Homo sapiens: one gene and its partners. The protein of the gene in region 1 purifies or fractionates together with the protein of each later gene. This does not show direct contact. Each region holds a gene or a part of one and is shown in the gene's direction. Other genes may lie near its edges.

Region 1 (7,783 bases):
ACAGAGCCCAGACTTCAAGGGAGGGTATAGTGAGAGATGGGGCTAAGAGGTAAGCCATGGTCAGAGCATTGCCTGCCAAGTTAAGGAGTGTGGAAGTAAAAATTATTCATCATCTACTTTATTTGGTTAAAATGAAAATAAACTATTGATCCTATTAATATTTGACAAGAAGCCTTGGGAGTTAAAATCCTGTTGAAGTAAGTAAGTTGCTTGAAAACTTGGAGTACTCCTATGTTAGTTATTTTCCTTGTTAATAAAATAAAGAAGAGAAGATTAGAAAATATGTTACAGGACCAACAGGTTTGTATGCCCACTGCACAGCAACATACCAATACACTGAGACAGTAGGGTTTGCAGCAGAGAAAGAGTTTAATGATTGCAGGGCGGCTGAGCAAGGAGATGAGAGGAGATCTTCAAGTCCATCTCCCTGAGGAGTTCTGGGCTGGGGTTTTTAAGGGGATTGTGGAGAATGAGGGACTGGAAAATTGGGGTCATTGAGTGGTTGGGGTCAAAGGGATGAAGTCGTCAGGATGTGGAAACTGCATTCAGTGAGTCAGCTCCTTGTATGATCCTTCAGAACTGCTGATGTCGATGGGGTCCTTCAGATCAGCTGACCTCATTAGTTTCACTGGTGTGCAGGACCTGAAAGGATATCTCAAATGGAAACAACATTTTATAATGTTCAAGTTGTTATCTATAATAGAGCAGTTAAGGGGAACTATACTGTCTGATCTATGTGATTCTAGGACAATATGCCTAAACAACGATGAGAAAGCAGGTCAGAGAGCCGGCTGACCTAATGATTAATGCTGAATGTGTTGCAAGCTTGGTTTGTTTTCATTTCTTTCTCTCCCTGCTTTCCTGATTAATTTTCAAAGGTTCATAAGGACAGTTTCAAATATGTTCTATTGACACAGGAGCATAATAAACAAAAGGAGAATGGGGCCAAAGTCACATCTCAGTTTAAATATGATAAGCTCTGTCTCTTGTTATCATAAACTACTGAAAAGTAGCAGAGAGTTCCATCATATTTGTTTAAATGCCAGAGTTTTGGATTGATCTCACAGGAATGTTCCCTCTAACAGAGCACGTGATGATCACAAAGCCAATAAAACGTGTTCTGGGACGTTGCAATTGCTCTTTAATCTATTTGGTGCGTTTGGTATAGGAAACTGAGTATTTAAAACCTAAACTGTAAATTAACCTACCAGACTTTAGATAAGCAATCTGCCAATATAAATATTGTGTAGGTTCTCTTGTTAGCCATAAGGCTATACATGTTTTGGCTCTAGCTTTCTCCTTGCAGACTGCTTGAAATAAAGGATTGGCAGATTCACATTAAAGCACAACATTAAGCCTTGTTCCTTCATAGGAATTTGGATTTGTGTGAAGACAATGGGAAGCCATGGAAGGGTTTTTTTTTTTTTTTTCAGAGTGTCACTCTGTCACCCAGGCTGGAGTGCAGTGACGCCATCTCAGCTCAAGCGATGACCCTTGGGTTCAAGCGATTCTCATGCATCAGCCTCCCTAGTAGCTGGAATTACAGTTATGTGCCACCATTCCCAGCTAATTTTTTTGTATTGGTAGTAGAGGTGGGGTTTTGCCATGTTGGCCAGGCTGGTCTCGAACTCCTGACCTCAACTGATTCACCTGCCTTGGCCTCCCAAAGTGCTGGGATTACAGATGTGAGCTACCATTCCTGGCTCATTGAAGGGTTTTAAGCAGAGTAGAAACATAATCAGAGTTGTGTTTTGTTTGTTTGTTTGTTTATTTATGAGACAGGGTCTCTGTCATCCAAGCTGGAGTGCAGTGGCATGATCATGGCTCACTGCAGCTTCAACCTTCCCAGGCTCAGGTGATCCTCCCACCTCGGCCTCCCGAGTAGCTGGGATTATGGGCATGTGCCACCACACCCGGCTAATTTTTGTATTTTGTGTAGAGACGGGGTTTTGCAATATTGGCCAAGCTGGTCTCGAACTCCTAGGCTCAAGTGATCTTCCCACCTCGGCCTTCCAAAGTGCTGGGATTACAGGTGTGAGCCACCGCCCCCGGCCTCAGAGTTGTGTTTTATAAATAAACTCTGGAGCCCTGTAGAGGGCAAATAGGAGGGTAGAGAGAAACCAGAGGTGGAGCAATCCTAGCAGACTGTTGCCGGAAACCAGGTGAGAAATACTGATGGCCTGAGCTAAGGCAGTAAAGTGGAGATGGAAGGGATGGGATGGACATAATGACTTTAAGGAGGTAGAATTAATATTGATTGGACATGGGGGATGAGGAAGGGGTCTAGGATGATTCCCAGGTTTCAGACTTGGGCAACTGGATGGAAGGGAGTTGCCTGGCATCTATTAAGCACTTATTAAATTTGTTGAATACATATGCAGATAGGAAATAACATGAAAATGAGGAGGACCAGATTGCAGTGAATCATCATCATTTTAGTTTTGAATGTGTTGAGTTTGAGGTACTGTTGTGATTCTCCCTAAGTACGATTTTACTACGGGGTCGTACTGTGACTCGTCACATTTAATATAAGACAAAAAATGAGCAAAAGATTTGAATAGGCATTTCACCAGAGAAGACAAACAAATAGCCAATAAGCACATGAAAGGATGCTCAACATCATTAATCATTAGGGAAATGCAAATCAAAACCACAGTGAGATATCAATCCATACCAACTAGGATGGCTAAAATAAAAAAGATAATATGGCCAGGCACGGTGGCTCATGCCTGTAATCCCAGCACTTTGGGAGGCCGAGGTGAGTGGATCACTTGAGGTCAGGAGTTTGAGACCAGCCTGGTCAACATGGCGAAAACTCGTCTCTACTAAAAATACAAAAATTAGCTGGGTGTGGTGGCATGCACCTGTAATCCCAGCTACTCAGGAGGCTGAGGCAGGAGAATCACTTGAACCCAGGAGGAAGAGGTTGCAGTAAGGTGAGATTGCACCACTGTCCTCCAGCCTGGGTGACAGAGTGAGACTCCCTCTCAAAAAAAAAAAAAAAAAAAAAAAGATAATAAGTGTTGGTGAGCATGTGGAGAATTTGGAACCCTCATATGAAGCTGGTGAGATTGTAAAATGGTGCAGCCTCTTTGGAAAACAGTTTGGGAATTCCTCAAAATGTTAAAAATAGAGTTATCATTTGACCCAGCAATTTCACTCTTAGGGTACATATATCCAAGAGAATTGAAGGCCCATGTCCACACAAAAAATCTGTATGTAAATATTCGTTTCAGCATTATTCATAATAACACAAAAAAGCAGAAACAACCCAAATGTTTATCAGTTGATGGATGCATAAACAAAACGTGGAATAGCCACACAATGGAATATGATTCAGACATTAAAATGAAGTACTGATAAATAGATGAACCTTGAAAACATTATGCTAAACAGAAGAAGCCAGTCACAAAGGTCACATATTGTGTGATTCCATTTATATGAAGTGTCCAGAATAGGCAAATCCACAAACATGGAAAGTAGATTACTGGTTGCCAGGAGTGGGGTGTGGGAGGAAAGAATGGGAGGTGACTGCTAAGGAGTATGGGGTTCTTTTGGGATAATAAAAGTATTCTGAAACTAGATAGTGATGATTGTTGCACAACCTTGTGAATATACTAAAACCCATTGAATCGTACACTTCAAAAGAGTGAATGGTATGATATGTGAATTATGCCTCAATAAAGCTGTTACTTAAAAAAAAAATATATATATATATATATACACACACACACACACACACACACACACACACACACAACCCTAGGTCCAGGGCTCAAGCTATGAAACAGCTGCAGTTCTTTCAGAAAGGTGACTGAGCCAGCCCCAGCTTGCAGCAGCTGATCTCAGGTTGGCAGTCTTAAGAAGTGGGCTTTGCTAAAATCAACCTGCCCTCTGACCCCATTCCAGCAGGGGATTTGCATTGTAATATTCCAGTTTAAATTAGAGGATGGGACCAGGCACGGTGGTACACGCCTGTAATCCTAGAACTTTAGGAAGCTGAGGCAGGCAGATCGTTTGAGCCCAGGAGTTCGAGACCAGTGTGGGCAAGCTGGTGAAACCCCATCTCTACAAAAAACAAACAAACAAACAAACAAACAAAAAAACTCAAAATTAGTTGGGCATGGTGGCGTGCACCTTTAGTCCCAGCTACTCTGGAGGCTGAGGTGGGAGGATCACTTGAGCCTGGGAGGTCGAGGCTGCAGTGAGCCCAGATTGTGCTACTGCACTCCAGCCTGAGTGACAGAGGGAAACCCTGTCTCAGTAATTAAATAGAGGGCTGGGTGCGTCAGCTCATGTGTAATCCCAGCACTTTGGGAAGTCAAGGCAGGTGGATCACTTGAGGCCAGGAGCTCGAGACCAGCCTGGCCAACTTGGTAAAACCCCATCTCTACTAAAAATACAAAAATTTTTACAGGCGCCTGTAACCCCAGCTACTCCAGAGGCTGAGGCAGGAGAATTGCTTGAACCCGGGAGGTGGAGGTTGCAGTGAGCCGAGATCATGCCACTGCACTCCAGCCTGGGTGACAGAGCGAGACTCTGTCTCAAAAAAAAAAAAAAAAAATTAGAGGATGGGGGCTGAGGAGCATACAAGACTCTCTGGTCAGGGCAGCTCTTTTCTTTCTTTCTGTTTTTCATTTTGGTAGTAACAGATCTGATTCTGCAGCTGATCAAGGATGACACTGGTGAGAACCCTATGAGGGAGTGAAGCAGCCTGGACTCTTACCACAAGAGGGAGGTGTTATAAGAGCAATGCAGAGGTTGGAGTGGGCAGCAGTTGGGGCAGGAGGAAGCCGACTGCTGCCTGGTCTGCAAAGAAGTCCTTTCAAGTCTCTAGGACTGGACTCTTCCTAAGCAAGTCCGGTATGTAGGTGGGTAAGGGTGGTTGTGTGTGTGTGTGTGTGTGTGTGTGTGTGTGTGTGTGTGTGTGTAGGGGATATGGGATATGGTCTGTTTGGAGACAGGTTTTGATTATGATTTTTTATCATCTTAAAAGATCCTTCAACTTTGATTCGTGAAAGAAATTTTGTCACGATTGCTTGCTCTGCTTTTTTGATCTTTACTCCCATGAAGTTTGGGAGAGTACTGGTTACAAGTTGGGAGTGATTTCATACTTACAAATAGGGACTCTGGGTATCCTCTGAAAACGGGATTCTCGGCAGTGGGGGAAACAAGCTCTTTAATGGTTAATGCTGATAGCTGTTGGGTAAGTTTGTGAAACTTTGGGTAAGCGGAAAGGGGCCTTCTGTGATTGGGCCAAGATCCCAGAACTCTGAGAGGTTGAGGAGTGAGGATCCCTTGAACTCAGGAGTTTGGGACCAGCCTGGGCAACATGATGAAACCCTGTCTCTACAAAAAATACAAAAAATTAGCTAGGTGTGGTGGTGCACACCTGTGGTCCCAGCCACTTGGGAGGCTGAGGTGGGAGGATCACCTGAGCCCAGGAGGTCGAGGCTACAGTGAGCTGTGATTGCACCACTGCACTCCAGCCTACATGACAGAGTGAGACCGTGTCTCAAAAAAAAAAAAAAAAAAAAAAGAAGAAAGAAAAAAAGAAAAAAAAAAGAAAATCAAAAAGAAAAGAAAAAACAATTATTGACTTGAGGAATACTTAGCCTGTATGCCCAAGTGGGAAGAAAAGAATGTCATGGTGGATCAGTTCAGGGAGCCATGTGCTGTTTACAGACTTGCTCTTAGGATCAGTGACTAAGCTGACTGGAGTTTATAGACAAACCCATGTCTGAAGATTTTAACCAAAGAAGGGAATAAAGGCTACTTCTTACTTTGCCATGTATTATATTGCAGAGAGAGAGGTCCTCGCTTGAGACAGAAGGAAGTTAAGGTGCACGAGCATGGCCCAAAATAGTGATAAAGAGCTGATAGAAATGATTAAGGATGTTGCAATATGTGGAGTTATGCATACTGTAGAAAAGTGGTGGTGTAATGCACCAGATAATGCACATTCCCATGGCACAGTTTCCTTCTATGAAAGCTCAGGGGAAGAGACAGGGCTCAGGGAGAAAGGCAATATGGCAATAATAAGACAACAACTACCCAAAATAATACTAATATCTAACAATTATGTATTGCTTTACATGCATTAACTTATTTAACCCTCTCAATAAATCACTGAGGTTTCTTTTTCCCATTTTGAACACGAGCACACAGGAACAGAGGCCAGTTCACTTACTCAAGGCTGCAGAACAAGTAAATCTCGAAGCCTGATTTTGAACCCAGGCCATCTGGCCTCAGAGTCTATGCTCATGATTCTATTTTTTATTTTTTTCTTTTGAGAGAGAGTCTCACTCTGTCTTCCAGGCTGGAGTGCAGTGGCATGATCTCAGCTCATTGCGGCCTCTGCCTCCCAGGTTCAAGCTATTCTCCTGCCTCAGCCTCCTGAGTAGCTGGGATTCCAGGCGCCCGCCATCACACCTGACTAATTTTTGTATTTTTAGTAGAGACGAGGTTTCGCTATGTTGGCCAGGCTGGTCTTGAACTCCTGGCCTCAAGTGATCTGCCTGCCTCGCATCCCAAAGTTCTGGGATTAAAAGCATGAGCCACCATGCCTGGCCTCATGATTCTATTTAAGAAAATTTTTTTTTAGGCTGGGTGCGGTGGCTCACGCCTGTAATCCCAGCACTTTGGGAGGCTGAGGCAGGCGGATCACGAGGTCAGGAGTTTGAGACCAGCCTGGGCAATATGGTAAAACCTTGTCTTTACTAAAAAATACAAAAATTAGCCGGGCATGGTGTTGCATGCCTGTAGTCCCAGCTACTCAGGAGGCTAAGGCCGGAGGATCGCTGGAACCTGGGAGGCAGAGGTTGCAGTGAGCTGAGATCACGCCACTGCACTCCAGCCTGGCGACAGAGCAAGATTCCGTCTCAAAACAAACAACAACAAAAACAAAAACACACACACAAAAAACCAATCCTTTTTTTTCTTATTATCTATTTATTAATTTTTCCAAACAGGGTGTTGCTCTGTTGCCCAGGATAGAGTGCGGTAGTGCAATCATGGCTCACTGCAACCTCGACCTCCCAGGCTAAAGTGATTCCCACCCCCTCCCCCCACCGTGTCAGCCTCCAGAGTAGCTGGGACTACAGGCACTCCCCACCATGCCTGCCTAGTTTTTGTATTTTTTGTAGAGATGGGATTTTGCCATGTTGCTCAGGCTGGTCTCGAACTCCTCAAGGAATTCGCCTACCTCAGCCTTCTAAAGTATTGGGATTACAAGTGTGAGCCACTGTGCCCAGCCTCATGATTCTATACTATCCACAAAATCAGGGTTGGGGCAGGAAAGCTCATGCAGAGAGGTTCTTGGAAAGAAAGAAAAGGAAAGGTGTCAGGCCTCTGAGCCCAAGCTAAGCCATCACATCCCCTGTGACCTGCATGTATACATCCAGATGGCCTGAAGCAACTGAAGATCCACAAAAGAAGTGAAAATAGCCTCAACTGATGACATTCCACCACTGTGATTTGTTCCTGCCCCACATTAACTGAGTGATTAACTTCGTGAAATTCCTTCTCCTGGCTCAGAAGCTCCCCCACTGAGCACCTTATGACCCCCACCCCTGCCTGCAAGAGAAAAACCCCCTTTAAATGTAATTTTCCGCTACCCACCCAAATCCTATAAAATGACCCCACCCCATCTCCCTTTGCTGACTCTCTTTTCGGACTCAGCCCGCCTGCACCCAGGTGAAATAAACAGCCTTGTTGCTCACACAAAGCCTGTTTGGTGATCTCTTCACTGGGACGCGTGTGACAAAAGGTAGTCGGAATCATC
Region 2 (7,021 bases), on another chromosome or scaffold:
TTTGTTTGGCCTTCCATTCAAGGATCTTTTGTGGTCTTTGTCTAGTTTTAGCCTGGTGATGGCCATGTGCTGGTGACGTGCACACGACGGTCCTGCCCTTAGCCTCCTCCTGTGCTCCTGTTCAGTATAGGTGGCACATTTCTTCCTATAAACCTGGACTGCTTTGCCAATTTGCTGGCCCGTATAGTGTCTTTGTGCAACCTCAACTTCCTCATCCTTTCAGATGGGCATGGATGGAACTGTGCTTGTAGCAGACTCCAGAATGTGCTTCTGTCTCAGCTCTTTGGAACGAGAGAAAGACATAATCTTCCTACGAATGTGGGAAGGTGCATTGAAATGACTTTTATGATTCTTGCCTCAGTCAAAAGTCACAAAGGGACTGCACTTCCTCTTGGTCACTGCCACTCTGCTCATGGCCACAAAAGGGAAGAGTGGATTACACATTTGTATACAAATCACCACACTGAGTGAAGTGGATGCTTTTGTGAATGTTTTCAGTTATTCACTTCATCAGCTCTAGTTTCATGACCATATAAAAATTGCATCTTAGCAGGTGTAAGGGGAAAGGAAACACCCCTTCTTTCTTCTCTTACTTTCTTTTGTTTTGTTTTGTTTTGTTTTTTTGCCAGCGGTTAAGGAGACCTGTAGTTTGAGTCAAGTGCTAGAATTCCAGTATTTAGCACCAAGAGGTAAAACAGACCTAGAAAGCTCAAAACTTGCAAATTGTAAAGAAAAAGACCTGCAGCAGTTTGTACCTACATTGTTTAAGCTGAGATTTGAAGGCTGAAATGTAGTGTTAGCCACGAGAAGCTGAGGTGAGAGATGCCCATTCCTGGTCAGGGAGCGAGACCCGTGAAGGCCTTAGGGTACAGGGGATGGAGGATGTCAGAACTGAGAGCATCCAGCGGGCAGGAGGGAGAGCCCAAGGTGAGGCGAAGCTTGACAACGCAGGCCCCACCTGGGCTCGCTGGCTAAAGTTAGGGATTCCGGGGTCTGCTCCAAGCACGGTGGAAAGCCCCTGAAGAGTTTTAGCAGGGGACTGGCTCAGGCAGCTCTGCATAATCAATAGGCCCTAGAACCTTACTTTTATAGTCAGCAGGCAATAGCGCTGCTCAAAGACTTCAGTAAACTTCTGCCTACGTAGCACATTGCACAAAGATGACACTCTGTAAATCTGAAATACCCAACGGCAAGTAATTATTACCCCTTGTTTGGCCATAAAAGAATTCTAGGACCCAAAACATATGAACAGGCAGTTTGGGGGTTTTATTTTTATTTTTGTTTTTGAGACAGGGTCTCACTTTGTCACCCAGGCTTGAGTGTAGTGGCATGATCATGGCTCACTGCAGCCTCAACCCCCCAGGCTCAAGCAATCCTCCTGCCTCAGCCTGCTGAGTAGCTGGGACCACAGGCACATGCCACCATACCTGGCTAATTTTTTAAAATTTTTTGTAGAGACAGGGGCTCTCACTATGTTGCCCAGGCTGGTCTTGAACTCTTGGCCTCAAGTGATCCTCCTACTCAGCCTCCCACAGTGCTGGGATTACAGGCATGAGCCACTGCGTTTGGCCATGAATGGGCAGTTTTTTAACTTCCTTTTACTTCTGAAGTAAAGCGTTGCTCTAGGAAGTACCACTCTCACCTGTTCTAGTAGGGATAAGGCTACCTGGTTTTTTATTCCTATTGTTATATGGTACCAAGAAATGGTGTTATATTTTAGCCTCAGTTTGCCCTCTTGAAATGGAGACTAAAGTGTTCCCAGGACTCCTGTTACCTCACTAGAGCATTAGGTATCAAGGACACTGGGTTCCAGGTCAAGTCAGAGAGGCTTCAGCCAGCATCCTGCCTGGAACAGTGTTTCAACCTAAGATCTGCCCTTGGGCCTCACCCAGTTTCTTCTGGCCCTTCTAGGGATGCCAAGGCCGCTGTGGTGACTGGCATGGAGCTGAAGGACATGAGCTCAGAACAGCTGGATGAGATCTTAGCCAACTACCAGGAGATTGTCTTTGCCCGGACATCCCCCCAGCAGAAGCTGATCATTGTGGAGGGCTGTCAGAGGCAGGTGGGTGGACAGCAGTGTCCAGAGGACTGACAGGCCCATCACTGTCCATGGGCAAGTGCAGAGGTCTGGATCTCACATCAGGCTGTGGTGCCTTTGAAACTTCAAGAGAGAGTTCTTGGCTCATCCCCATCACCTGACCTCTCCAACCTCTCAGGTGGGCTGGCCCCTGTCCTCCTTTGAGACCCCCACCACATGTTCCCCGAAAGGCTCACCCCAGCTCTCTGCATTTTGTCATGAGAGCCCGGTGAAGCATTTGCCACTGTGGTAGTTGTGAGTAAAGAGAGATTTAAAATGCAAAGATTTAAAACAAAAAATGTGAAGACATAAGATACAAGACACCTGCGCATTAGGTTTTCCTCATTTGCACGTATCTTGTTTGGAGACCCTTGTTCCTGCTTCTAAGATTTCTCATCTTTATCTTTTCCCCTAAATGGGCCTTTCCGTTCAGCTATAATCATCCTCGCAACCTCAAGAGAAAGGGAAGTCTTGTTGCTCTTGCCAGGCCTGCAACCCACTGGGCCTGCTCACTCCCACTTTCTCCCTGGGTCCCCCGCCATAGGATGCTGTTGTTGCTGTGACCGGGGATGGAGTTAATGACTCTCCGGCTCTAAAGAAGGCAGACATTGGGATTGCCATGGGGATAGCAGGTTCTGATGCAGCCAAAAATGCAGCCGACATGGTCTTGCTGGACGACAACTTCGCATCCATCGTCACAGGGGTGGAGGAAGGTGAGTGAGTCTCAGGGGGTCTTCCCAAGGGCCAGGGTGGTCTGGGGGACTAGAAGTAAGTTCTGAAGGAGAAACCTCTCTGCCTAGGTCGCCTGATCTTTGACAACCTCAAGAAGACTATTGCTTATTCCCTGACCAAGAACATTGCCGAGCTGTGCCCCTTTCTGATCTACATCATTGTCGGGCTCCCCCTGCCCATTGGCACCATCACCATTCTGTTCATTGACTTGGGGACAGACATTGTAAGTGACACTGAAGGGAACAGGCTGTGATGCCTGCCCCAGGGGAGGTCAAGTTCAGGGTCGCTACCTTCAAGGGCCGGGGATGGACTAACTCAAGGCTTCTCAGCTTCCATGTGATGGGGCCTGTAGCTCTGCATTTCTCACAGGTTCTCAGGTGGTGCCCATTCTACCAGTCCACATGCCACACCTCAAAGCAAGGGACCAGAGGCATCTGCCAAATGTTTGGAAATTAAAAACACTCTATAGTGAGCTTTTTTTTCTTGAGACAGAGTTTCACTCCCATCACCTAGGCTAGAGTGCAGTGGTGCTATCTTGCCTCACTGCAACCTCCGCCTCCCAGGCTCAAGTGATTCTTCCACCTCAGCCTCCCAAGTAGTTGGGACTACAGGCTTGTGCCACCACACCTGGCTAATTTTTGTATTTTTAGTAGAGATGGGGTTTCCTGGCCTCAAGTGATCCACCTGCCTCGGCCTCCCAAAGTGCTGGGATTACAGGCATGAGTCACTGCACCTGAGCTATAGCAAGCTTTTCAAGACATGAGTCTTCATCCTCAAAAAAAAAAAAGAAATGCCATTGGTCAGTTTCAGCCTATGGGCTTCCCTTTTCTTTTGGGAAGATGAAGCTGTCACTCAGATTAATCACCCAAATAACCACTGGGGGCCCAGTGACTAAAGTGATAATCTCACAGCCACCTCTTGTTAAGTAAGAGAGTCTGACATGGAAGACCTTTACCTAAACACAGTAAGAAGTAGCAGTTATGAAGACTTTATAAAGCCTTGCCCTACAGTAATGTCACCTAAACCTTCCCCTTTTCCAGTATCCATTTAAAGAAAGCCCCGTCTAAGCTGCCCATGTGGCTGTGGCTTACGTGGGCAAGCAGGGAAAGCAACAGACAGCAAGCTGAATTCTTAGCAGGAAACTGGCCCTTCGAAGTGCCCCCTTCCCCTTCAAATTGCCCCCTTCCCCTCTCTTGTTTTCTACAACACCCAGGTAATCCCTAATTCCTAGAGAGACTGGAGATGTCTTTCCCTTTGAGGGGTATTGAGGTCCCCAAAGTTGATGGATCATTTTCCAAGCCCTTCACATTTGCCTGCTTTGCTCTGCTGCAGTGCTTCTCCAGGCCTGGTGCGGGCATCACCTGGGAACTTGTTAGACATGCACACTCTGGGCACTGGTGGACACCTGTAGCCTAGCTACTCAGGAGGCCAATGCAGGAGGATTACTTCAGCTCAGGAGTTTGAGTCCAGCCTGGTCAACACAGAGAGACCTAGTCTCTTAAAAAATAAAAATTAAGAACAAATAAAATAAAAATCTTATTCCAGATAACTGGGCTAGGAATGGAAATAGGTTGTACACCCATTGTCTTTTAAAAAAGAGAAAGAAAGAAAGAGAAAGAGAGAAAGAAAGAGAGAAAGAGAGAGAGGGAAAGAGAGAAAGAGAAAGAGAGAGAAAGAGAAAGAAAGAAAGGAAAGAAAGAAAGAAAGAAAGAAAGAAAGAAAGAAAGAAAGAAAGAAAGAAAGAAAGAAAGAAGGAAAGAGAAAGAGAAATGAATGCAAATTCTCTGGCCCCAGCCCAGTCCTCCTGAATTGGGAAGTCTGGAGGTGGGGCGCAATGATCTGTCTCTTAGCAGGTCCTCCCACCTGGAGGGAGAGGACGGCACAAGAAATTCTCCCTGTAGGGGAAGAGTGTTTTATAACCAGCATCCTTCAGAACTGCCAGCACAGGGTGATAAAAAGCAGCTGATTTCTAAAGGCACTATTCTTAAATTTCCATACAGACAACACGCCCTCTACTGCCTATAGCCTGGATGGGCCAGCTCCATGCCCCCCACCCCATCCAGCCAGTGCCCCACCCACCCCAGCCCCCCTCCCCTACTGTGGGTAGAGCAGAACATCCTGGGGTTAGACCTCACCAGCCTCTTCCCCTCTAGATCCCCTCCATTGCCTTGGCGTACGAGAAAGCTGAAAGTGACATCATGAACAGGAAGCCTCGCCACAAGAATAAGGACAGGCTGGTGAACCAGCCGCTCGCTGTGTACTCATACCTGCACATTGGTACGATGAGGGCGCGTCTTCCCCATCACACGAGGGCCTGCCCCGAGAATTCACTGGAGTGGGGGGCACAGCCAGAAAGTGTGGTTTTCCTGTGGGGCCTGGGTTGGGGAGGGAGGGGGAACCGAGAGTAGACAGGATGAGGCAGTTTCCTGAGGCCATCATAGAACCTGTGTCCTATCTCTCTTGTTCTTTCAGGCCTCATGCAAGCCCTGGGAGCTTTCCTTGTGTATTTCACCGTCTATGCACAAGAGGGCTTTCTGCCCCGCACTCTCATTAACCTGCGGGTAGAATGGGAGAAGGACTACGTGAATGACTTGAAAGACAGCTATGGGCAGGAATGGGTGAGTGGCGGGAGCCCTGCTGCAGAGTCCACCTGATTCTCTCCATGCTCATTGCCCTGCGCAGAATTACATAGAACCTCCATGTCCCTGAACAGCCTGGGAAAGCTTCAATTAATAGGGCTCAGGGCCCCCTTGCTGACACGTGTTTGGCCTTTGCCAGGTCTCATGGCACAGCCTCCTGTCTTGGGCTAGATGACAAGAGGTCCCTTTTTTTACCTTAGCTTTGCCATTGGTATAGAAGAGTGACCAGCCCAGCCACACCCACAGTGCGGCCAAATAAATTTACATCTTTCAGGCCGGGTGCAGTGGCTAATGCCTATAATCCCAGCACTTTGGGAGGCTGAGGAGGGAGAATCACTTGAGCCCAGGAGTTTGAGACCAGCCTGGCCAACACAGTGAGACCCTGCCTGTGTTAGAAATAATAGTAATGATAATTTTTTAAAAAATTAACATTTTTCTCTACTCAGCTGGTTCAAGAAAGAAAAATGTTTCTTTCCAAACACTAGAAGGTGGTCCATTCTCAGTCCGGGTGAGGTGTGGAAAGAACATGAAGCTTTAGAGAACTGCATTGGAATTTCCTAGAAGTTTTCCTTTAGGCCTCAAGGTCTCTTCCTTCTCTGCCCATTAACAGACAAGGTACCAGAGGGAATACCTAGAATGGACGGGCTACACGGCTTTCTTTGTTGGCATCCTAGTCCAGCAAATAGCAGATCTGATCATCAGGAAAACCCGGAGGAATTCCATCTTCCAGCAGGGTCTCTTCAGGTACTGCCTGTGCCCGGCCTCCTGGGGCAGCCCTGGGCCTGCCGTGCAAGGATGATGATGATTTGTTTTTCACAAGACAGAGTTCTGGCCACACTTGTAACCCCAGAGGCATTGATTTTTCTGGTGGCATGGTCTGCTGGGTGTATGATCATGAAGCCACAAGAATCCCAAGTCTGTCTGCTTTTGTGTGTCTTGCAGAAATAAAGTCATCTGGGTGGGGATCACCTCACAGATCATCATTGGTCTGATCCTCTCCTATGGCCTCGGAAGTGTCACAGCCTTGAGTTTCACCATGCTTAGGTGAGTTCACCCTCAACAGCATGGAGGAAAGAGCCAGCCTCTGCTTTGAGCTGTCGCAGCCTAAATAAACCTGAGGATTCCCAGGGTTCTTCCCCAAGTCTTTCAAAAGACGTCAAACTGATCCCATGCTCTGTGAGCCCAAAGCTTTGATCTGCATTTTCCAGAAGTGGAAATGGGTTTTCTAGACCTCACCAACCGGCCTTCATCCTCATCCAACAGGTTGCTTCAAAGGCAGACATTGCTTCTAGCAGTCACAGTGCAGGTTAAACAAGGAGCTTTCCACCTTTATTTTGTGGGACCTCGTGGATTTGTCGTTCTTTGCAGTAAAGCAAGACAAATGAACGAGAAGCCCCATTCCCATTGGGCAGGGTTGGGCTATCCCTGTGGATGAGTCAGGGTTCACTTTCCATCCCTTTGCTTCCAGGGCTCAGTACTGGTTTGTGGCTGTGCCGCACGCCATCCTGATCTGGGTGTATGATGAGGTGCGGAAGCTCTTCATCAGGCTCTACCCTGGAAGTGAGTAGCCTAT
Region 3 (7,020 bases), on another chromosome or scaffold:
GGATGTGAGTGTGAGCGTGTGTGTGTTTCTGTGTGTGTGTGTCTCCGTGCATGGATGTGAGTGTGAGCATGTGTGTGTGTGCATGGATGTGTGAGCGTGTGTGTGTTTCTGTGTGTGTGTGTCTCTGTGCATGGATGTGAGTGTGAGCATGTGTGTGTCTCTGTGCATGGATGTGAGTGTGAGCGTGTGTGTGTGTTTCTGTGTGTGTGTGTCTGTGCATGGATGAGAGTGTGAGCGTGTGTGTGTGTTTCTGTGTGTGTGTGTCTCCGTGCATGGATGTGAGTGTGAGCATGTGTGTGTGTGGCGGGGGGGGATAACCCAGGATAACCCACATCTCAAGATTCTTCACTTGATGGCATCTGCAAAGACCCTATTTCCAAATAAGGCTGCATTCCGGTTCCGGGGGTTGGGACATGGACACATCGGTGGGGACATTTTTAGCCTGCCCCTGGGCTGCAAGTGGACACGGGCTTTGCCCCTGAGGCCTTGGGGAAGGGGCTGGGACCTCAGCCAGGGAGACAGTGGGCATGAGAAGACGGGATGGGGGCCCCAGGCCCAGCCAAAGGGGTCCTCACTTCAGAGCTGGCCAAGGAGCTGCTGTCCCAACAGTGGCAGGAGGGAACCTGGGCAAGGAGGGGGCATGGCCCAGAGGCCTGGGAGAGGACGGACCTGGTGACTGGGTAGGGGCCAAGGAGCCAGGAGAGAAAGCAGTTGTGGGAGGGGAGCGGGACTGAAGGGGCTGGAGGCAGGTGGAGAGAGAGAGGGGTGAGAGTGGGGATGAGGCGGCCAGGTGGGGCGGTGGGCAGCCGCTGAGAGCAGGGTGCTCTCTGTGGCTTTTGTTTCCCAGGCAGTCGTCGGCAATGTGGGAGAGTGGGGTGGGGACGGAGGCCTGGCGTGCCCTAAGGAGGCAGGTCCAGGGCATGGTGGGACAGGCTGGCTTGGGACCTGGGAGGGAGCTGGGAAGCAGAGTGGTCTGGGCCTCCCTGGGTTTGGCTCCCTAAGTACTCCCAGTGCAGAGGACAGGACTTGGTGTATGGGAGAACTTTCTAGCAAAGCTCCCACCTCTTTACTGATGGAGGACCCAAGAGGGGCTGGCCGGTGAGCAAGGATCACCAGTGACACTGGCAGCATTTGCCTGGCACTCAGGTGTCCTCATTCCCAGGCCTGGGCCCTCCCTCTCAGCCTCAGGGCTCTGGGCTGGGAACCAACAGACACAAACCAAGGAGAAAGGACCATCCCCTTACCTGGCCATTAGCTGTTTAGGGGCCACAATTTGCTGAGGACTAGGGACTTCCATGACACTTTGTTCCTTGGCCATCTGACCTTGGCCTCAGTGGGACTCATCACAAAGGTAGGCACCATGGCCAACTCTTGGCTGGATTAGCCATGAGCAGTGCCCTGGGGGCCCGGGGGAGGAGGCAAAGTGGTGGGGCAGGTAGCCCCTGCCTCAGATTTTCTCCCCTGAACTTGCTTCTTCCCCCTGGCCAGACAGGGCCTGTGCAGAGTCTGGGGTCAGAGAATAGGGAGGGGAGATGCATAAACACGCAACCCAGGCAGCAGCTGCTCCAAGCTCAGGGAGATTCCCCCATGTGGATAGCAGCCATCAGTTAAATGAACAGCCTCCATCCCTCAGCATGTTCCCTGGTCCCCGAGGGAAGACAGTGACGCAGCCCAAAGGGACTCTTCTCTTTGCTTGTCAGCTCTCACAGCCACTCCTAAGCCTTTAAGTGTGGGTCTCCCCAGCCCCACACCTGCCCTCCCAGAGCTGCCCACACATGTCTGCTAAGAGGTGCTTGTCTTCAGCCGGGACCCAACCCTTGCCCAAGGGATGCTCCTGCTGGGGGCCACGAAAGGAGGCCAGCTCAGCAGCCTGCTTCTGCCTTTGCTCACTCCAGAGCAGGGCCCTTGGGCCTGGGATGGAAGGACATGACCCCAGGGAGCCTGCCACAGTGTGGGAGGCCAAGAAGGAACGTGGCCTGAATGCGCTGGGGAAAGGAGCTCCTCTGCCCTCCTGTGGTGCCTGAGGGCATGGGGGCAGCTGGCCTCCCGGCCAGGGGCCAAAGTCCAGCTTACAACCTGCTCCGGGTGGGATCCAGTGCCCTCTGGGCCTCCACTTCCCCATCTGGAATGTGGGCTAGTAAGAGGAACGACTCCAAGATGGCAGGGCTCTGGCGAAATGGCCAGAACTTAGCTCATGATAAGTTTCCAGCATCATTGGGGCTTGCTTCAGTCTTGATTTTTCCCATTCGGGGCCATGGGAAGTCACAGGCTGTGTGTGTGTGAGAAGGGGGTGTCCCCATGGCGGCTCTGGGCCCGGAGGAGCACACGCCCCAGGCTCAGGAAAAGCTGCCTCAGAGTTGGAGTGGAAGGGGACTGCGGGAGTGTGCAAATGAATATGTGTGAGAGTGTGAGTGGGGAGTGTGTGTGTGAGTGTGACTGTGAGTAACTGTGTGTGAGTGTGTGTGTATGTATGTGCCCATGTGTGTGCTCACTGGGTAAGTGTGTGAGTTGTGTAGGTGTGAGAGCATGTAAATATGTGTGAACCATTGTGTAACTGTGTGGGCCACCGAGCTTGTGTGGGTGAGGGTGAGTGAGCACATATGACTGTGAGGATGTGTCTGCGTGAGATTGTGAGTGTGTGCATGAGTGTGTGAGTGTGTGTTTGTGTAAGTAGGTGAGTGAGCATGAGTTCATGCATATGAGCAGGTGTGAGTATGTGTGCGTGCATGTGAGTGGGTGTGAGTAAGCATGTGTGAGCGCACACATGACCAGGTGTATGAGTGTGTGTGTGCGTGCGTGCGCGAACCTCAGCTTTCCACGGCACCAGCTGCTTCCTGTGGAAGGGAGGGGCAGTCTGTGGGGGTTGTGACGGTTCCCTGGTCTCAGGGGCAGCAGAAGCTTTCTGTCCTTTTGGTCCCTAGCACAGTGGTGCCTCCTCAAAGAGGCCTTCCCTGAGCCGCCAGCAGCCTCTTTCATGGCTCCCCATCAATGGGGTTCCATAGCTCCGACCCCAGCGGCGTGAGCACATTTGCCATCCGACGGCCACTCCCTGCTTTGTGGTCCCTGCTGTGTCCCCAGTATTCAGCTCTGGTCTGGCACACAGCATGTCCAGGGCCCTCTTTGTCCAAGGCAAGAAAGAATTTGAGGCTGCGTCCAGGCCTCTTGCACCTGCCTCAGGCTCCCGCCCAGAGCCTCTACCTGTGCCCCAGCGAGCATTCTCTGCTCGCTGCTCAGAATGCTCGCAAAGGCCGGCCCTGGGGTCAGAGGCCTCCACAGCCCCTGGAGCTGGGAAGCCTGGGGGTCCACCGGCAGGCACGGGGGTCTCTTTCCAGGTAGGTGGGAACGCGTGCTTGTGGGTGTGGACAGGTGTCTGCACTGGGGTTTGTCTGTGTGTCTGTCTCCACTCACACCGGGGATGTATGTGCCCCTGCGTGTCTGTCTCTGGTGCCCACCTGTGTGCAGTCTCTGTGTTCTGCCTAACGGTGGTGTTCCCGTGATAACCGACGGTGAGGATCTCCGGTAAGCGCCGCTTCCTCTGGGAAGACGCATTTGGACGCCCGTACTCTCAACAGGTAATGGAGTTTGCAGGAGACCACCAATGCCTTGGAGTCCACTGAGGCAAGACCCAAGGACCCCACGCTACACATCAGCCACCCGGCTCTGTGCCCCATTTTACTGTTGGGGAGACGCACCTAGAGGGCAGGGTCTGGAGAGGTAGTGGCAGCCTCAGTCGCAAGCTCAGGGTGCTCTCTCTGCACTCACAGGTGCCATGGTCCCCCAGTTTCCATCCCCACCCACCCCCACTCGGCCAGTGCCCTTTGGGGGCAATGCCAGGCCAGGAAGGGCGGGCACCCTCGCGCGTCCTGGGGACAGAAGGGCGCGCACCGGGCGCGTAGCTCCTGAGCCCCGAGGCCCCTGCGCCGCGCACCGCCCCCCGCGCCCGCTCCCTCCTCCCTCCCTCCTCCTCACCCAGCTCCCTCCCCTCCCCCCTCCCTCCCTCCGCGCTCAGAGCTGCGGTTGGAGCCGAGCGCGCCGCGTCGCCCGCCGCCGGTGCAGAGCGTGGGGAGCACTCGGCCGCAGCCCTCGCCCGCCGCAGAGGGTCGCGTCCCGCGCCGCCGGCCAGGCCGCCCCGTGCCCAGGCCTTTCCATCCTTGGAGCGGATCGTTGCCCGCCTGACGCCCGCCCGCAGCGACAGCGCCCGCCGGAGCCGAGGCCGCGGCGGCGGCCGTGCCCATGCCCGGGTAAGTGGTGCTCTGGGCGCGCGGGCGCCGCCGGGGTGGGCGCGGGCGCGGCGCGGGCACAAGGCGCGGGTGGGGATGGGAGGATGACCCGGCAGGTGGTGCGGCGGCAGGTAGGGGGACACGGGTCCCCGCCCGAGGCACCTGAGCCCCGCGCCGGGCCTGCGTGTCCTTGCGGCACTGCGGCCGCGCGTCACCCCGGGGCCCCAGGCCGGCGGGCAGCGCCCCGCACCCTGCACCCTGCGCCCCGCATCGCGCGCGCACGCGCATCCGTGTCTGAGGAACAAGGCCCTTGGGGGCTGCGGGCCGGGGCTCAGGGTGGGCGCAGCCGGGGGCGCGGGATCTGGGCCGGGAGCCCGCCAGTGCGCACGCACCTTCCCGGAGCCTCGGGCACCCCCTCCCCCCCGCGCCCTCACACTGTATCATCCTTCCCCTCTCGCCTTCCCGCACCGTTCCCCGCACGCCCACGCGGCTGCCCAGCAGACCCCACCGCGGTCATGGGCAGTGCCCACGAGAAGCCGCCCGGGGCCGCACTTAGGTAACTTCTCCATCCCTCCAGGAACGGCTGTCTCCCCCTCCTCGCCTGTGTGACCTTGGCCAGCCAGCTTTTCCTGTGGCCGCCTGCGTTTTCTCACGGGTGAAAGCTCTGGCTTTAAGATTCTGGAATTTGGAATGGCAGGTGCGGCATCTCCCAGAGCCTGAGACGATGGGCTTCTCTCTCTGTGACCTGGTGTCCTTCCTTCTGCTGGCCCTTCTGGGGGTTGGTGGCTCAGCCAGCCGGCTGAGGAGGGGTGGGAGGCAGGGCAGGGGCATGGCGCCGGGGCAGGTCAGGACTGGAGGGAGTCTTGGAGAGCCCGCGGTGAGGGCTCCATGAGGGTTTAGGAGAGACTGTGGAAATGCTCCTTCGCTCACTCAAGGGGCAGGGAAGGGACCAGAATTCCTCAACGAGATGCTTGCCATTTCCTGGCGAGGTCATATAACTTTCAAAGATGAAGCCCAGGGCCTCCGACCTCAAAGGAGTCCCTGCCTGCTAAAGGATCAAGTCCAGCCTGTCCCCAACTGGCCCCCATCCTGAATTCCACTGGCACCCTAAACGTCAGCCGACTTCCCCTGGCTGACTTGGGCACCAGTCTGGCAGGCACCCCCTGCACCTCCTCCCCTCCTTTGCCCACTAGGATCTGTGCCCTCACCCCCTGCCATTGCCCCTCACTAGTCAGTGACCATCTTAAGGCAAGGACTGGCTCTTCATTTGCACAGGCCTGGCACAGAGTGGGCACCTGGTTTCTGCATGGCATATTCATGACCTTGACCTCACTGAATCTGCAGACTCACTGAACAGGAGAGGCAAGGCCTGGATTTTTGTCCCCATTTTTCAGATGGGATCATTGAGGCCCCCAAGAGGAGAAGGGATTCAGCCCTGAATTGAGGCCCCTTCCTTCATGAGCAGATGGCTAGGGACATTCCTATGAACCTGGTGGGGCAGGGAGGCGGGGAGAGGTTATCGTAATAATCAAAGACCAGCCCCACTTCCTGAGCTCCATCTGAGTCTCACCTCAACCACACGAGTGAATGGCTGTTTTCATCCCCAACCCCCACCCCCCGCCGCCACTTTTCACAGATGAGGAAACCGAAGCCATGTGGCTCATTAAAGGGGCACTGGGATGCCGAGGAGAGGGCTGGGGATGCCTGGGCCCCTGTGGGACACAGCTGAGACCCAGCAGAGGGTCCCAGGGTGAGGTCAGCCCCTCAAGTCTGCGCCATCGGAACGGGCTGGGAACTTGTGGTCCCCGGCCATTGATTGTCACTGCTGCAGGCCCCGAGGCGGGGGACAGCCAAGGACACAGCCAGTCTCCATCAGCTCCACCTGGGCCGTGCCCTGCACGGCCAGGTGGTTTGAGTGCAGGAGTAGGCATGCTCTCACACAGCAGGGGGTAACGGGCAGATGGAAGTGGGGCGGGCGTGGGAGGGGGCCTTGCACAGGGCCAGAAGGAGAGCCGGTCCCTGAGGAAGGAAGCCCCTAAGGCAAAGAGCATGCCAGGGGACAGCCACAATGCCAGGTGATGGAGATGCCCCAATCGGCCCCCGAGGGGCAAGGAAGGGGCCAGAGGAGGCTCGTGAGGGTGCCTGGGGCTTCAGTGACAGCAGCCCCTTACCTGATGGTCTTTGTGACCTTGGCCAAGTCCCTTCTCCATTCCAGATCCAGGGAGGGTGGGGGTGGGCCTGGGGGAGCTGGAGCTTCAGAGGTTGAATCATTCACTAGCAGGAGAAGCCAAGCCTGTGAGTCAGTGAGTGCTCTCCATCCCAGAACGTCTGCTCCCAGCCCAGGGATGCAGCCACGGAGTGCCGGGGTCAGCCGTGGAGGACCCTCTGAGAATGTCTTGTGGAAAGGGGCGCCTTGCCTGCCCGGTAGACAGGATGAGGGCGCCCCAGAGCCCCAGGGGCTTCTGAGAGCTGAGTACCCTCTGGGCCTCTTGCAGCCAGCAGAGCCAGGCAGAGCTTCTTCTGGCCTTTTCACCTCCTCCCCCACCTCACAGAGCAAGTCATCAGCACATATGAACTCCCCTCTGATTTTAAACTGATGGCTTGTGTATTTCACCAATGGCCACTGTCTCCATCAGTGGTCAGTAGCACATCAAGTAATGTCAACAATGATAATAGTTATAATGGCAGTCACTTTATGTCAGACACTGAGTGCTGCACAGACATTTCCTTGCCCACTTAATTGAAACAACAACAAATGATTGCAAGTGCTGTTATCCCCATTTTGCATTGCGGCTGAGGC
Region 4 (7,012 bases), about 33 Mb from region 1:
TCTGTGGGTTTCAGCTAAGTAATCTTTCTCTTGACACTTCTCTCTGGTGATTCAGGTTAATAGAAATTTGAGAACATATACAGCTATTTTAAATTAAGAATTTAATATCCTCCTTCTCTGCCTCCCTGTACTTATCAGTCCTCTTTAGGATTCTGTAATGATCAGGACTGATGCATTCACATATGTAAAATGTGTTTACGGGGAAAGAATATGTTTTTTAAAATACACTGCAGTTGATATGTCTTTATTTTGTCCTATTGCTAGATGCATGTGACAGAATAAAGTTCTTTGTTTCTCTTTACACTTAATTACATTGAGGATTTTAGAAAACTGTCTTCATGTGTTATATCTCTTGAATCGATCAACTTTTCAGCAAATATCTCAGTTGTTTAGATTTACTCTATGAAAAAGAGCATACCTTAAAAATACCAAATATATTATTTTGAATCTGCAGCCACTCTTCAATGTTAACATCTCATATGGTAACTTGTCATGGGGTTTAAATACTTTTTTGTTTTGTTTTGTTTCGTTTTGTTTTTGAGACTGAGACTCACTCTGTCGCCAGGCTGGAGTGCAGTGGTGCGATCTCGGCTCCCTGCAACCTTGGACTCCCTGGTTCAAGCGATTCTCCTGCCTCAGCCTCCTGAGTAGCTGGGATTACAGGCATGAGCCACCACGCCCAGCTAATTTTTGTATTTTTAGTAGAGACGGGGTTTCACCATGTTGGCCAGGATGGTCTCAATCTCCGGACCTCGTGATCTGCCCGCCTCAGTCTCCCGAAGTGCTGGGATTACAGACGTGAGCCACCGCACCTGACTGGATTTAAATACTTTTATAAGTTTTGCATTGTAGCTAAAATGCATATTAAAAGAACTTTAAAATATTATTTCCCCAGTAAATTGTATTATTATATTGTTCCTTATGCAAAGATACATCTCTAGATCAGTTAAACACATGGGATAAGTTAGGTCTAAGATTAAGAGAATACTGTTACATACAGTGGCATCTTTGATTTCAGATAGTTCAATTTTTTTTCAAGGAAACAGTAAGCAATGCAATATTTTCTTGATTTTTACATTGAAAAATATGTGTGAGGGATGCTTTAGTACTAAGCCTGTGGGAGAAAAAAATTGAATTTCTTAATGTAATGTGAACAGTTATTTCTATATTGCTTTCACCCTTTATTTCCTATTTGAAGAATAAAAATATAAAAACCAAACTACAGTACAATTTTCTTGACTATGACAGTAAAAGTTTGTCATTGCATATGACTCACATTTCATTAAAATGCATACAAATATGTTCCGGGATACACACACACACACGTTTTCATTTATGGATATACATGAATATATATATTCCGTATGTTTCATTTATAGATTTATCGATATAAATGAAAACTTAATTGAATCGTGTTCTTAAATAAAGATGCTCAATAATTGTTTCATGACCACAACACTTTAAGAGCATTCATTTTATAATCTGGAACTGGAACAAACCCACAAAGTGAACAGATTCTAGTTTATTACCCATTTTGCTAGTGTACTATAGCAATGATTCACATATTACTTTAATGTCAAATTCTTGATTAAAGTAGAATACATAATTCAACATTGTATTGTAACTTCCTTGGAGGAAAAGTTGGAAAAAAGCCAGTGATTCTTAAATGTCTCTGAGTCGTTTTGAAAGATATTTTAGGGGGAAATAATATTGAAATTTATTAGGTGAAATTTAGGTTATTCTTCTGTTAAAAAGATTTGAAATAGTGTCAGGAAGGGCTATTTATTGTACCACATTAACCAATTCTCCATCAGTGACTGAAGAGAGGAAAAATGCTATCATTCTGTTCAATGTTCGTTTATCTTACACATCAAGGGCACAGCTCAGAAGGCTGGTAATGTCAAGCCTAGTGAGATACATAAACTGATAAAAAAATTATTTGCAACAGCATTGATTTATATTTATTCACTTTTAAACGTCTTTTACACATTTTGTGTCTAATCTTTTAAAATATTTTAAAACAAATGCTATCATCAGATCGTGAACATAATACCATACTTCCTATTGCCTGTATGCTTTTGAGGAGGCTATATAAATATTAATTTTCCAGTTCTGGAATTAAGAGAAAGAAGATTGCAGAACTTATCTTTTTGTTCTGATTAACTGATACTGAAAATAACACTGACAAGGTCTCTGGGCCAGTGGCGACGGTGAGTTCAAATAAAGATTAGATGAAGATGAAGCGCGGTATCTTAGGTAAGATACACATCTTTACTGTGTATATGCGTGTACAAGAAGGAAAACTTGCTTTTTTTTTTTTAAGTAGATGTTACGAAGGATGGTTTTTTTTTTTTTTTCAACTTGCAAAATCTCTTGAAGGTTGGAGCAGAGCCGCCGGTTACCTTTGAGCATCGAAATACCGCAAGTTATCCCGTTTCCTTTTCCCCTCAGGAAAGATGGGTGCAGGGTTGAGATGTTACAAGAGAATTAAAAGAGAGCCACCAGCTTGGCATAGTAGAAGAAACAAACCCAAAATGAAAACACCCGGATTTTAAGCGCGGATCCTGCGAGGCCGGTTTGCACTGGCCGAACGCCTGCGTTAACCCTTTGGGCGCCGCAGCTGGGATCCCCGGTGTTTGCGGACCCGACCGGCAGGAACAGAGATGGAGTGTCCCGCGCCCGCATGGGGAGTGAGCTCTCTTCCCCAAAGAGGGAGCGAGCCGAGAAGCACTTTTTCCTCCGGTGCGTGCGTCACGGCCCGGGACAGGCGTCGAGTCCGGTTTGGAGTGGGGGCAGAGACGCGGCGAGGAGCCGCTCAAATGTCCGCTGACTGGGGGTTCGCCTTAATCTGTCCTCGCCAGGAGCGCTCGCCCTCGCCCTCCCGCTGGCTCGCTCCTGGGCCCTGGAGGGGCATGGGCCCGGGGGCGGTTCGGGAGGGGCCCCAGGTGAAGGGCGCCCGCACTTCTCCTGCGGCAATCATCGCTCTCCTGCCTCCACACGTCGCGGCAGCGGCCCGGCCCCGCGCCGAAACAGCAGCTGTGACTGACGGAGTCACCTCCCCGCGCGCCTGGCCACCCCCTCCTCCCCCGCCGCTCCCTCCTGCACCAACACGTCATGGAAACACGGACGTCAGAGCCTCTCAGCCAATCGCAGGCTGCGGCAGGAGGGAAGGGGCGCGCTGGAGGGGGCGGGGGCAGCGGCAAGCCAAGGCGCTCAGGGGAAGGAAGAAAGGGAGGGGCGTGCGGAGGCGCAAGTCCCCACCTCCGCCCCTCACTCCGGCCACCCTTTCCCGACCGCGCGGCAAGTTCTAATCGCCAGGCGCGCGCTCGCCAGCCGAGGGCGCGCTCGCCGGGTCCTCCCCTTAAACGCCCTCCCAGTGCCGCTCAGCTCCCAGTCCCGGTCCGAGCCGCGGTTCCTCCGCGCGCGCGCGCGCGCACTCGCCCGCCCCCAGGCTCCCCGCGGATCGCGTCACGTGACCGCGCTCAGCCAAGGCGGCAGCGGCGGCGGCGCGAGCTTCGGCGGCGGTGGCGGCTGTGGCAGCGGGAGCAGCTGCGCCGCCAGCGTGGAGCGGGAGGCGTGTGGGTGTGGAGAAAAGGGAGCGCCAGACCGGAACGGGTGAGCGTTCTCCTCCCCCTGCCTACCCCGGCAATCTTGCAGGCCACCCGGTGCAGACGGGGTCCCTGCCCGGAGCTGCGCGCAGCCCCCTCGTGCTCGGCCGTCCGCTCTCCGGTGCCCGCGGGCCCCGCCCCGAGTGGGGCGGGCTGCGGCGCTCACGGAGGTGGCTGCACCCCGCCCGCGGCTGCTGTTGCGGACGGCGGCGTGAGGCCGGCTGAGCTGCCCGTGCCGAGCGAGCGCGGCGCGCCCTGTGTGCCGCTCTGCGGAGCCGAGGAGGCGGGTCCTGCGGGGACGCGGGCGGCCACTCGGTGGCTGCCGGGCTCTGGGCGGGGACGGCCGGGCGCCGCCTCCTCCTCCTTCGCTGCCGCCGCCGCCTCCTCGCAGTGCAGCGTGAGTAGGGAGCCCCGGCTGGTGGACGCCGAGCCTCTCGGCTCCTTGGCCGCCCCATCCCCGAGGTGCAGCTGCACCTCCGCGTGGCGCCCCGAGCCCTGCGAGCCGGCTGCGGACGCGCTGAGGACGGAGCCCCCATCCTCTGCGTTTCCCGCTGCCCCTTAACGCCCCGCGACCCTCCCGCAGCCTGCCTTTCCTTCCCCCTCGGAAAATGGTTCCCACTGCCGGGCGAGGTGAGTGGCGGCCGCCGCCCGCCCGCGGCCGGGGGCGGCGGGGCAGGTCACCTGCGGGGGAGGCCAGGCGGAGCACGGAGGTCGGGCGTCGCGGCGGGGATCCTGATAGCTGGGTGCGCAGCGGGTTGCGCCGGATTCGGGAGAAGCTGACGGGGGCGGTCGGGGCCCCTCGCAGGTTGCCTCTTGCCGGGAGATTGTGAAGGTGAGCGGGCTTCTCGCCGTGCACCTCAGCGCCGGGTCAGTCTGGGAGTCGCTGCTCCGGGCCCGAGGGATGGGGCTTGTTGGGGCTTCTGGTCTACACCCGCAGGTCTTCGGCTTCACGAAGCCGCCTCGGCCGCGCCACAGCCCATCCCGCCACCGGTCGCCCCCGCCACGGCGCGTGGTGACCTTGAGGGCACCGTGCCCGGCACTCCCTCTCCCCGCGCCCCGGGAGGGTCACCCCTCTAATCCTTGGCCTCGGCCCCCCAGACGCACTGCGGGAGGGGAGCGGGGGCCCCTGGTCGGCCCCTGGCCCTGGTGGTTGATTGTTGGCGTGTCAGGACGGTGATTCCTCGGGAGTTGGAGAGCCGCCTGGTCTTTCTCCTCACGCCTTCCGTCTGGCCCCCCAGGATGTTCACAGTTGTTTCCGATTCGTGTTTATTCACTTAGTTTAAGAGAAAAAAGCCTGCGCCCCCACCTCCCTTTTTGAGGAAGGAGTCTGTAGGAGGACCGCGTTCCAGTGGCAGGGGTGTGGGGTGGGGGCTGTGCTCTCTTTATCCCATCCTGCGGGAGAATCCTGTGGCTAAGCTGGTTAGCGACCCCTGGTTCTGCGCCGCGGTCACCAGCCAGGTTGGTCTCTGTGCGCATTTCATTCACCAGTTTTCTGCGGGACTCGCAGCGCTGGGAGTGCTCGCACCCTGTGCGCTGCTTGGCTCGGAGGGGAGGGCAGGGCGTCCGGGTGGGTTAAAGGGGTCTGCAGGTACTTGGAGGGCTCGACCCTCCTCGACAGGCTGATATTTACCTTTTCTTTGGGTTAGAGCGCTGCAGACAGCCACCTTTCGCTTCTGTGCCCGCTACTTTTCTTGGTTTATTAATAATCTAATGGCTTCTGTTGGTATCGATTGCTGTTCGTGATAAATTAGCTACATAGATTTTTTTCATACGTGTGTAGGTATATGCATATATCTGAACTTGTCTGCCTGTCAACATGGAAGCCTTTGTTGTGTTTAACCTCCCCCACCTGAGGACAGTCTTATTTTAAAATAAGGCTTTTGTTCAGCGTGGGTGTATTTTATAATAAGAAGTACTTGTAAGGGCCTGGTTTGTATGAGGCTCTCATCTGGCAGAGGGTGTGTAACCCTTTGGATGGTGGCCCACGTGAGTGAATGGAGGGCCTTCACCACTTGCCCCGATGCCAGCCTTCCCGAGACTCCCTGTCCTTGTGTGTGGCAGGGGTGGATTGGGGGAATTAAGAGGGATTGGAGGAGAATCTGCTTTTTGTACTTGTGCGTTTCATTTGGGTCCTCCTCCTCCCCTCTCTTTTTCTTTATCCTCCTGGTGAGTTCAAATTTGAAGTAAATAGAAACATTTTTTTTTTAATTGGGAACCTTTGATAGCTAGTATATGAAATGGGCTTATTTAGCTATGATTTCAGGAGGACGTTTTAGTTTTTACCTTGCTTTAGATAAGACAGCTAAATTGCTGTAATTAAGGGTGGATCTCTGTCCTGATTTTGGCTTGGGTGTAACTGCAAAGATCTTTGAAAAGTAACTGTTAATTTCCTACCATATAGTCTGCAAAAGTGAGTCACATTCGGGTGAGTTGAGGACAGAGCGCCACCTTTAATTTAAAATTTCGTGATTTTCTTTTATTAAAATGGTGAAAATTCGGGGTACGCCTTCTTGATTTTTATCGCAGCTGTCATTATTGGCATCCCCATTTTGACGTGTAAGGGGGAATTGTCTTCATTTTTCTGTATTCTCTCATTTCTCTTTTGAGAGAAATTTCTGCAATTGTATGGGAAATCTTTTTTTTATTGAAGCTTGGGATTTTAGCATTCTGAGATGAGATGAGAAACTAGTTTTGATTTGTGTTTATAATAATATTGATGGTCTGGATATTCTTGGTAAAAGAAGGAAAGTAATAGCTGCTTTTAATAGGTGGTTTGAACTAGCCATTGCCACCAAATAAAGGTACCTACCAGTATGACAGTGGCTTTACAATTTTTTTTTTTTTTTTAGCTGTAGGCCTATTAACAGATTCTAAAATAAACACGCAGGATCAGATATAGTAATTCTTTTTTGTTGTCTTCCAACAACTTACCTTTTGTGATTTTACTGTTTTACAGTTGCTTGTTCTTAAATAATATAGATGAACACTTCGAGCAGGTGTACTTATATTCAAAGTTTAATAAAGACCATGTTAGAAAAAGTGGTTTGTATACATGGCTCCTCTCAGGTGCATCTCATGTAAAAATAAATGGAGATTTTAATACTTAGAAAAGAGTTACTGTAGTGACAGTTGAGATTTCTTTCCCTTCCCTTCCTTCCCAAATCATAAGTATAAGGAACACTGTCTCTTTAGGCACAGCCTCCTTTTTTGATGTAACATGAGAAAAGGGATTTAGCTCCCAAGTAATGAATTAAGATGTGGATATTATTACATATAGTCTTACTTACAAACCGCAAAATATTACTGCCCTTCTATCTGCATTTAAGGTTTCATTCAACACTTGCAATTTCTCTATAGACAATGTAAAGCATTGGCTATTGAGCTGTAGATAAGTCTTTATTAAA

The links.
Region 2: the proteins of HSD17B6 (region 1) and ATP12A purify together in Homo sapiens (affinity purification with mass spectrometry; 3 studies listed by BioGRID and IntAct, with this or other methods). This does not show direct contact.
Region 3: the proteins of HSD17B6 (region 1) and ATP2B3 purify together in Homo sapiens (affinity purification with mass spectrometry; 3 studies listed by BioGRID and IntAct, with this or other methods). This does not show direct contact.
Region 4: the proteins of HSD17B6 (region 1) and ATP2B1 purify together in Homo sapiens (affinity purification with mass spectrometry; 3 studies listed by BioGRID and IntAct, with this or other methods). This does not show direct contact.

Annotation. Positions count from the first base shown.
Region 1 is NC_000012.12:56,758,552-56,766,334, forward strand, and holds the start of HSD17B6 (17-beta-hydroxysteroid dehydrogenase type 6 precursor), read left to right. Parts: upstream 1-4,772; 5' UTR 4,773-4,863; exon of another isoform or gene 4,864-4,871; intron 4,872-7,783. UniProt on the Homo sapiens protein: NAD-dependent oxidoreductase with broad substrate specificity that shows both oxidative and reductive activity (in vitro). Has 17-beta-hydroxysteroid dehydrogenase activity towards various steroids (in vitro).
Region 2 is NC_000013.11:24,704,402-24,711,422, forward strand, and holds part of ATP12A (potassium-transporting ATPase alpha chain 2), read left to right. Parts: intron 1-1,911; coding exon 1,912-2,062; intron 2,063-2,621; coding exon 2,622-2,790; intron 2,791-2,877; coding exon 2,878-3,032; intron 3,033-4,962; coding exon 4,963-5,086; intron 5,087-5,281; coding exon 5,282-5,427; intron 5,428-6,058; coding exon 6,059-6,192; intron 6,193-6,390; coding exon 6,391-6,492; intron 6,493-6,916; coding exon 6,917-7,008; intron 7,009-7,021. UniProt on the Homo sapiens protein: The catalytic subunit of a H(+)/K(+) ATPase and/or Na(+)/K(+) ATPase pump which transports K(+) ions in exchange for Na(+) and/or H(+) ions across the apical membrane of epithelial cells.
Region 3 is NC_000023.11:153,513,635-153,520,654, forward strand, and holds the start of ATP2B3 (plasma membrane calcium-transporting ATPase 3), read left to right. Parts: upstream 1-4,007; 5' UTR 4,008-4,241; intron 4,242-4,797; 5' UTR 4,798-4,917; intron 4,918-7,020. UniProt on the Homo sapiens protein: ATP-driven Ca(2+) ion pump involved in the maintenance of basal intracellular Ca(2+) levels at the presynaptic terminals. Uses ATP as an energy source to transport cytosolic Ca(2+) ions across the plasma membrane to the extracellular compartment.
Region 4 is NC_000012.12:89,705,822-89,712,833, reverse strand, and holds the start of ATP2B1 (plasma membrane calcium-transporting ATPase 1), read left to right. Parts: upstream 1-3,995; 5' UTR 3,996-4,238; exon of another isoform or gene 4,239-4,440; intron 4,441-4,686; exon of another isoform or gene 4,687-5,066; intron 5,067-7,012. UniProt on the Homo sapiens protein: Catalyzes the hydrolysis of ATP coupled with the transport of calcium from the cytoplasm to the extracellular space thereby maintaining intracellular calcium homeostasis.